2 linked regions of the Homo sapiens genome follow. The protein of the gene in region 1 purifies or fractionates together with the protein of each later gene. This does not show direct contact. Each region holds a gene or a part of one and is shown on either strand. Other genes may lie near its edges.

Region 1 (3,823 bases):
GAGACTTTCTCTGGCCTGACTGCTTGAGCTGCAATTATCGGTCTTTTCTTCCCTTTGGACCCAAATGGAAACATCAGCTCTTCTTGAGTTTCAAGCCTGCCAGCTTTTGGACTGGAACTTATGCCATAAGCTCTCCTGGTTCTCAGGTCTTCAAATTCAGATTGGAACATCACTGACTCCCCAGCCTCTCAGCCTCCCAACTGCAGATCTTGGGACTTCTCAGCCTCCATAATTACATGAACCTATTCCTTATAATCAATCAATCTCTTTCTCTCTCTCAGTTCTACCTGTTGTTTCTTTCTTTTTCTGGAGAATCCTGACTAATATACCTCAGTTGAGAACTACTATTGTGGATCATGTTACTGGGGGCAAAAGGCGATACAGTAGACTGTAAATAGAGAAGAAAGAAGCAGCTGGGCGCGGTGGCTCACGCCTGTAATCCCAGCACTTTGGGAGGCTGAGGCAGGTGAATCACAAGGTCAGGAGTTCGAGACCAGCCTGGCCAACATGGTGAAACTCCGTCTCTACTAGAAATACAAAAAATTAGCCGAGTGTAGTGGTGGGAACCTGTAATCTCAGCTACTCGGGAGGCTGAGGCAGGAGAATAGCTTGAACCTGGGATGTGAAGGTTGCAGTGAGCCGAGATCACTCCACTGTACTCCAGCCTGGGCAACAGAGCAAGACTCCATCTCAAAAAAAAAAAAAAAAAAAAAAAAGAAGAAGCAAAGCAAGAAACTTCTGGGAAATGACGAAATACTACCTTTCTTTCCAGAGACAGCAGTTGGAAAGCATTTGATTAGGACGTCAATTTTCGATTAACACAGATTATGGTCGGTAAGAATTAGGTCCACAAATGCATTTTTGCATCACACCTCCAAAATGTTACCCAGTACAAAGACTACTTGCCTCAACACTAGGAACACAACATTTGGCAAACACTGATGTAAAATAAGAACACATTCTATAAGCTAAGCTAATAAACTTGTTTTTGATTAAGTCACATTAATTTGTCTTGATAAAATATATGAAATTCATTGTTTCTTGCTCTGTCGCCAGGCTGGAGTGCAGTGGCGCAATCTCGGCTCACTGCAACCTCCGCCTCCCGGGTTCAAGCAATTCCTCTGCCTCTGCCCCCCTAGTAGCTGGGACTGCAGGCACGTGCCACCACACCCAGCTAATTTTTTGTGTTTTACTAGAGACAGGGTTTCACCATGTTGTCCAGGATGGTCTCGATCTCCTAACTTCATAATCCGCCCGCCTTGGCCTCCCAAAGTGCTGGGATTACAGGTGTGAGCCACCACACCCTGCCTTTTTTTTTTTGAGACGGAGTCTCACTCTGTCGCCCAGGCTGGAGTGCAATGGCGCAATCTCGGCTCACTGCAACCTCCATCTCCCGGGTTCAAATGATTCTGTCTCAGCCTCCCAAGTAGCTGGGACTACAGACGCGCACCACCACACCTGGCTTATTTTTGTATTTTTAGTAGAGACAGGGTTTCGCCATGTTAGCCAGGCTGATCTTGAACTCCTGACCTCTGGTGATCCGCCCACCTCGACCTCCCAAAGTGCTGGGATTACAGGCGTGAGCCACTGCCCCTGGCCAAAATTTTTGGCAGAGATGAGGTCTCACTATATTGCCCAGGCTGGTCTCGGACTCCTGGGCCTTGGCCTCCCAAAGTGCTGGGATTACAGGCATGAGGCACCATGCCCGGCAGATACACAACTTTCTAAAAGAATGTTTCTGAAGCAAATTCACAGTACATTAGGTGGATGAGTTTAGCCACACAATGTATTATTGATTTTGGTCTCCTGTATTAGCTATGTGTTACATGTACTTTGAAGATTTTTCAGTGGGTCTTTTTTATTGAACAAGTTTTTATAATCTAAGTTTATTTTAAAGTATAAGTTTATATTTGATCCATTCTGACTAAATGACTTTATTTAGCACAAAATAGAGGAGTTGATGACAGTTAATGTCAATTGCACCAGACCAATACTTAACTAATTAATCAAGTGCAGTACAAATACATACTGAAGCACAATGAATTCTTCCAGGTCTTCAAGACAAAAATCACAGTTTGTAATTCCTTGTATTTAAGACATCCAGGTTTGGGACTGTGCAATCTCACCAGTTTTCAAAATGTCCAACCATACAAACACAGAAGTACAGCAGAGAGAAATCATTTACAGACTTCACTCTTAAGAAATCAAAAATTAATAATTTAAGTGCCACAAATCTATATGTAGTTCAAAATATACAAAGACACAAATTACATTATGAAAATTCTTCACATGGCCCATTTTTACATCAATTACTACAAAAAATGGACATTTATCAAGTATCTGACTCACAACATCAAGAATGTGCCTGTACAAATAAATGTTAACGAAATTACACATTTTTCACACTATCTTTTTCCACGATTAATATGTATTTCCTTCAATTTTCAGTGAAGACTTTTCTAATAATACTATTATTACCTTCACCCCATTTCCTGTCCTCATCTACTATTTAGATCACCTACATCAAAGAAATAAAAATAGGCTGGGCCCAGTGGCCCATACCTGTAATCCCAGCACTTTGGGAGGCTGAGATAGGCAGATCACAAGGTCAGGAGTTCGAAACCAGCCTTGCCAACATGATGAAACCCCATCTCTACTAAAAATACAAAAATTAGCTGGGTGTGGTGGTGCGTGCCTATAGTTCCAGCTACTCGGGAGGCTGAGGAAGAAGAATCGCTTGAACCTGGGAGGCGGAGGTTGCAGTGAGCCGAGATCGCACCACTGCACTCCAGCCTGGGCAACAGAGCGAGACTCCGTCTCAAAAAAGAAAAAAAAACAAAGGTATTTATTTATTGTTTTTGTTCCTTTTCCTTTGTGTAAACAAAAACAATATATTTGGGAGAACTTTCAATAAAGCTGAAATTGACAAAGTTTTATTCCCAATAATGCCAAAGAACTAGTATCCTCCTTACTGAAGGCTAAAAAGAAACAGTGATGATTAAATTACAGTAGAACAGGAATTCTAGCAACAGTATTGTTTCTAGTTATTTGTAAAAAATAACAATGAGTTCTGTCAATTAGTTATTGAATATTAGATAGTACATTACTGCTTTTAAGAACATTTTAGAATTTATAGGCTGAAATACTAAAGTTAATAGGTCTAGCTACAGAATAAATGTCGTTTATATGGTTGATTTTAATCAATAATACTGAGAGAACTTAACACGTTTAATATAAATCCTCACAACACCCCTGTGAGGTAAGTATTGCTTACACCCACTTTACGGATGGGAAATCAGAAAGAGCAAGAAGTAACAATCTCAAGAGTTATAAATAAAAAAATTTTTTGTTTTCTTATAAGGCAGACTGTGCTGAGTTCTGATGATACGCTAATAAGAACAAATACTAAAACAGTCTCTATTTTTCTCCAGAAAACAACTGCGTGAGATTTCAAAAGAAGGAAAAATTTTAAGCTGACTCAAGGGGAAAATGTTTAGTATCTGCCTGATACACACGAAAGTGCATATGACATTTCCAGTTTCAAGCTTGGTAATCATTATGCAAACTGCACTATACTATTAGGATACTGGCTAACAGTATAGCTCCATTTTGTGGAGATGTAGTCAAAAAATAAAGGTTTTAGCTGGAAGAACTTTTTTTTTTTTGAGATGGAGTCTCGCTCTGTCACCCAGGCTGGAGTGCAGTGGTGCGATCTCCGCTCACTGCAACCTCTGCCTCCCGGGTTCAAGCTATTCCACTGCCTCAGCCTCTCGAGTAGCTGGGATTACAGGTGTGTGCCACCACACCCGGCTAATTTTTTGTA
Region 2 (3,823 bases), on another chromosome or scaffold:
GTCCAGATCAGTGATTCTTCTCAACCATTTATGTGTATTAGTATCATCTAGGGGAGCTTTTTACATTTTAATATATTATTCCTGACTCTCGTGTGACAGCTTGATTTTTCTTTGAACTTCATTTGACTCTTACTTTTATGAAGAATAATAAAGTTGAAGCAATGCTATGGCAACTGCATGGCTTTTTGGTATGTTGTATCTCAGTACTTGTTCCAACAGTTTTATGCCAGGATTAACCTGAAAACTAAATGCCCAAGACTAAAATTAAAGATGGTAACCCTGAGAGTCTCTTAAATTACTTTACAAACCTCATGCTAGTGCTTTATCAGCAGTATTTATATGGGCATGGAGGACTGTTTGAATAATTATCACAAGGTGAACCCATCTGTGGACCATGTCAGCAACAGAACTGAAAGCTACTATAAACCAGGATGTGTGTTGATAGATGAGTGAAAAGTGGAGAAAAGAGGATAAAGCTCCTTTTACCTCCATTCCTTATTCAGGTGAAGACAACATCCCAAACTCTAAATAAATGTTCTTTCAAAGGGCACAGAAAGCCTTCCTAAAACAGTCCTGATAAGGACCAGTTATCACACTATAGGCGTAACTCCAAGGATCCCTGTCCTTGAAGGCGCATGACATAGCCTACTCAGAGGCCAAAGGCTCCTGGGCTTCTGCTAAGTCATAGCTCTAGTGTCTGTTGTCTCTCATTCTCTGTAGACGTGGATTTTTCACTGTTCCTCTGTCTTTGGCCTGTTGCAGTGGAACAACAAACAGGACCACAGGATGAGAGCCTTAAAATACAGGCCAGGCAGTGGCTCATGCTTGTAATGCCAGTACTTTCAGAGGCTGAGGCAGGAGGATTGCTTGAGCCCAGGAGGTTGAGACAAGCCTAGGCAACATAGCAAAACCCTAGCTCTACAAAAAAATTAGCCGGGCAGAGCAGCCTATAGTCCCAGCACCTTGGGAGGCTGGGGTGGGAGGATTGCATGAGCTCAGGAGTTCAAGGCTGCAGTGTGCCATGATTATGCCACTGCACTTCAGCCTAGGCAACAGAGCAAGACTCTGTTTAAAAAAAAAAAAAGAAAAAACTTTCGAGATGCTGTAGTCAACAGTTCAAGGTAATCATCTGGGATTTAAGACCATTGTTCTTTTCTCTTATGTAAGATAGCATTTATTTATTCTCTGCCATTTCCAAAAAGGATTTGAGATTAAAACATACGTTATATAGTAAGTTTAGATATCCTTTAGTCATCTTGATTCACAAGTAGACTTTGTTAAAGTCTTCTATGTAAATTCATCATCCCACATTCTCTTTATTCTTGGTATCTCAGTTGCTTGATAGAAGGCATGGTATGTGGAAATTGGCAAAGTATGTGTAAGCCTCTAACAGTCATTCTTGAGAGGTTTTTCCCAGTTTCCTTTTTGCCATCTGTTGACTACAGGTTCCTGAAGTGGAAGCAAATGTTTTGGGGGAGCCAGTGCCACTTGAGTTTGATTGTGGCTAGTGAAAAGCAGCGGGCCTCTGGAAATACCCAGTGTCATAAGAGAGCAGATCCTTTTCTAAGTTCTAATGTCATTCACCCACTTATTCTCTTAGTGTGAATTGAATGCTATAGTAGACTACATTATCTCTCATCTATATTTGGTGCATAAGTTGGAGCTTATCAATGATATAGTAAGTCTTTTTCTAGTCTCAGATTTTTATCTGTTCTTGTCCTTTGTTTTAGTGTTCCTATATCCCCAGCATGTTGTATTTTGTTTGTTCTAAAATATTATGTACTGCTACCTTCTTAAATTATGTGTGATTAGACATTTTATTTAAGAGTGGTTCAGTTTAATTTTAAAAAGCTTTCTTTTTGGCAGGAAATAACTCTGAAGTAAGAGAAACTGCAATAGAAGTTGGAAAAGGATGTGATTTCCATATTTCAAGTCATTCAAAGACAGATGGTATGATTTTTCTTTAGCTTATTTGTATTAATATACAACATTTTGTGGTTTGATGAATATTATCTATGTAGTAAGAGGAATAATTTCAGCATATTATTTATTAGCAGGATTTTAAAATGCTATTATTGCTAATTTAAGTGATAATATTTAAAATAATTTGATAAGATACCAAAATAGTACAATTAAGACAGGTCAATGCATTATAGTGTGTAGTATCCTTTCTTAAAATTGCTAAGTTAGAGGGCAAGTCTTTTAAAAGATTTAATGGGATATTAGATAGTTTGGCCAATTCAAGTTTTTATGTAAACCAATGCACTGTTTCCCAACTTTCAGGCATTTGCGTACCAGTGTAAGGATTTTCATCCTATCTTTATGCCACCTGTTACGCCATCATTTAGTGTTTTTCTTTAAAAGTCTGCTTTGTCTTTGTTAAAAGGGAAGATTAGCAAATCTTAAAGAGGCTTTTTGGGGGGATTGTTTTTTGTATTTTTTTAATTTTGTTTGGTTTTTGAGACAGGATCTCACTCTGTCACCCAGGCTAGAGTGCAGGGCTCCCTGCAGCCTCAACCTCCTTGGCTCAAGTGATCCTCCTGCCTCAGCGCCCCCTCCCCCAGTAGCTGGGACTACAGGCACATGCCACCACACCTAGCTAATTTTTAACTTTTCTGTAGAGGTGGGATCTCACTATGTTGCCCAGGCTGGTCTCAAACTCCTAAGATCAAGTGATCCACTTGCCCTGGCCTCCCAAAGTGCTGGGATTACAGGCATGAGCCACCATGCCTGGCTTTAAAGAACTTTTAAAAGCATACTAGAACTGGACTGAGACTTTTTTCTTGACTAGTCAGAATAATTAATTAAAATGTAATATTGTGGAATATTTTTCTATTTAATGTTATTTAATGTGGTAACCATTTTTGTCACCACGTAAGTAATGCCTCTAACCCTTAGTTTCCTCACTTGTAAGTAGAAGTCTTAGGCATCATAATCTCTGACAGCCCTTACAAGTTCTGAAGTTACATGATTTGATTTCTTAAAAGGTAAGTGTTGAGATATTTTTTAAATTGAAAAGCAGAGTCTATCGCTTTCTTTGTGAGTACAGATCTAGTTGGCAAAATCAAGTAAAAGAGAATATTCATGTACATTGTCATTCCACCTGTTCTTTGGGTTTCTTAACCATCCTCAGAACATGCAGATAGCATTTCATAGTATGACTAGCCCAGACCTTGTGTTATGTTTTTTATACCAAACACACATGTTAGGGAATTATTTTCCCTTTTGCAAAGAAGTCTTTACATAAGCAGAATATGTTTGCAAAAAAACTAAAATCTTACAAATTTTAAAAAAGAATTCTTGAAAGATTTAAGTAACAAGTTCTCTATCATAGATTCATCTTTCCTTCAGTAGGAAGAAAGCTCTTCCATCTTTGTTATTAGGATGCTCGTAGCAAATGTGAGATATGTGACAAGTGATGACAGATAGTCTCTAATTCCAGCATAAATATGTGAGAAAATATTAACTTTTCTTTCTCAGTGCTTTTTTTTTTTTTTTTTGAGACAGAGTCTCGCTCTATCACCCAGGCTAGAGTGGGTGGCACGATCTCGGCTCACTGAAACCTCTGCTTCCCGGGTTCAAGCAATTCTCCTGCCTCAGCCTCCCAAGTAGCTGGGACTATAGGCACGTGCCACCATGCCTGGCTAATTTTTTGTATTTTTAGTAGAGATAGGGTTTTACCATGTTGGCCAGGCTGGTCTTGAACTCCTGACCTCATGATTCGCCCACTTCAGCCTCCCAAAGTGCGGGGATTACAGGCATGAGCCACCGTGCCCAGCCTTTCAGTGCTTTTTTAGAAATAGATACCTGTTCTCTTTAGGGC

Evidence for each region.
Region 2: the proteins of ZBTB25 (region 1) and POC5 purify together in Homo sapiens (co-immunoprecipitation; one large-scale study listed by IntAct). This does not show direct contact.

The regions. Positions count from the first base shown.
Region 1 is NC_000014.9:64,479,631-64,483,453, forward strand, and holds part of ZBTB25 (zinc finger and BTB domain-containing protein 25), read right to left. Parts: 3' UTR 1-3,823. UniProt on the Homo sapiens protein: May be involved in transcriptional regulation.
Region 2 is NC_000005.10:75,703,831-75,707,653, reverse strand, and holds part of POC5 (centrosomal protein POC5), read left to right. Parts: intron 1-1,866; coding exon 1,867-1,950; intron 1,951-3,823. UniProt on the Homo sapiens protein: Essential for the assembly of the distal half of centrioles, required for centriole elongation. Acts as a negative regulator of centriole elongation.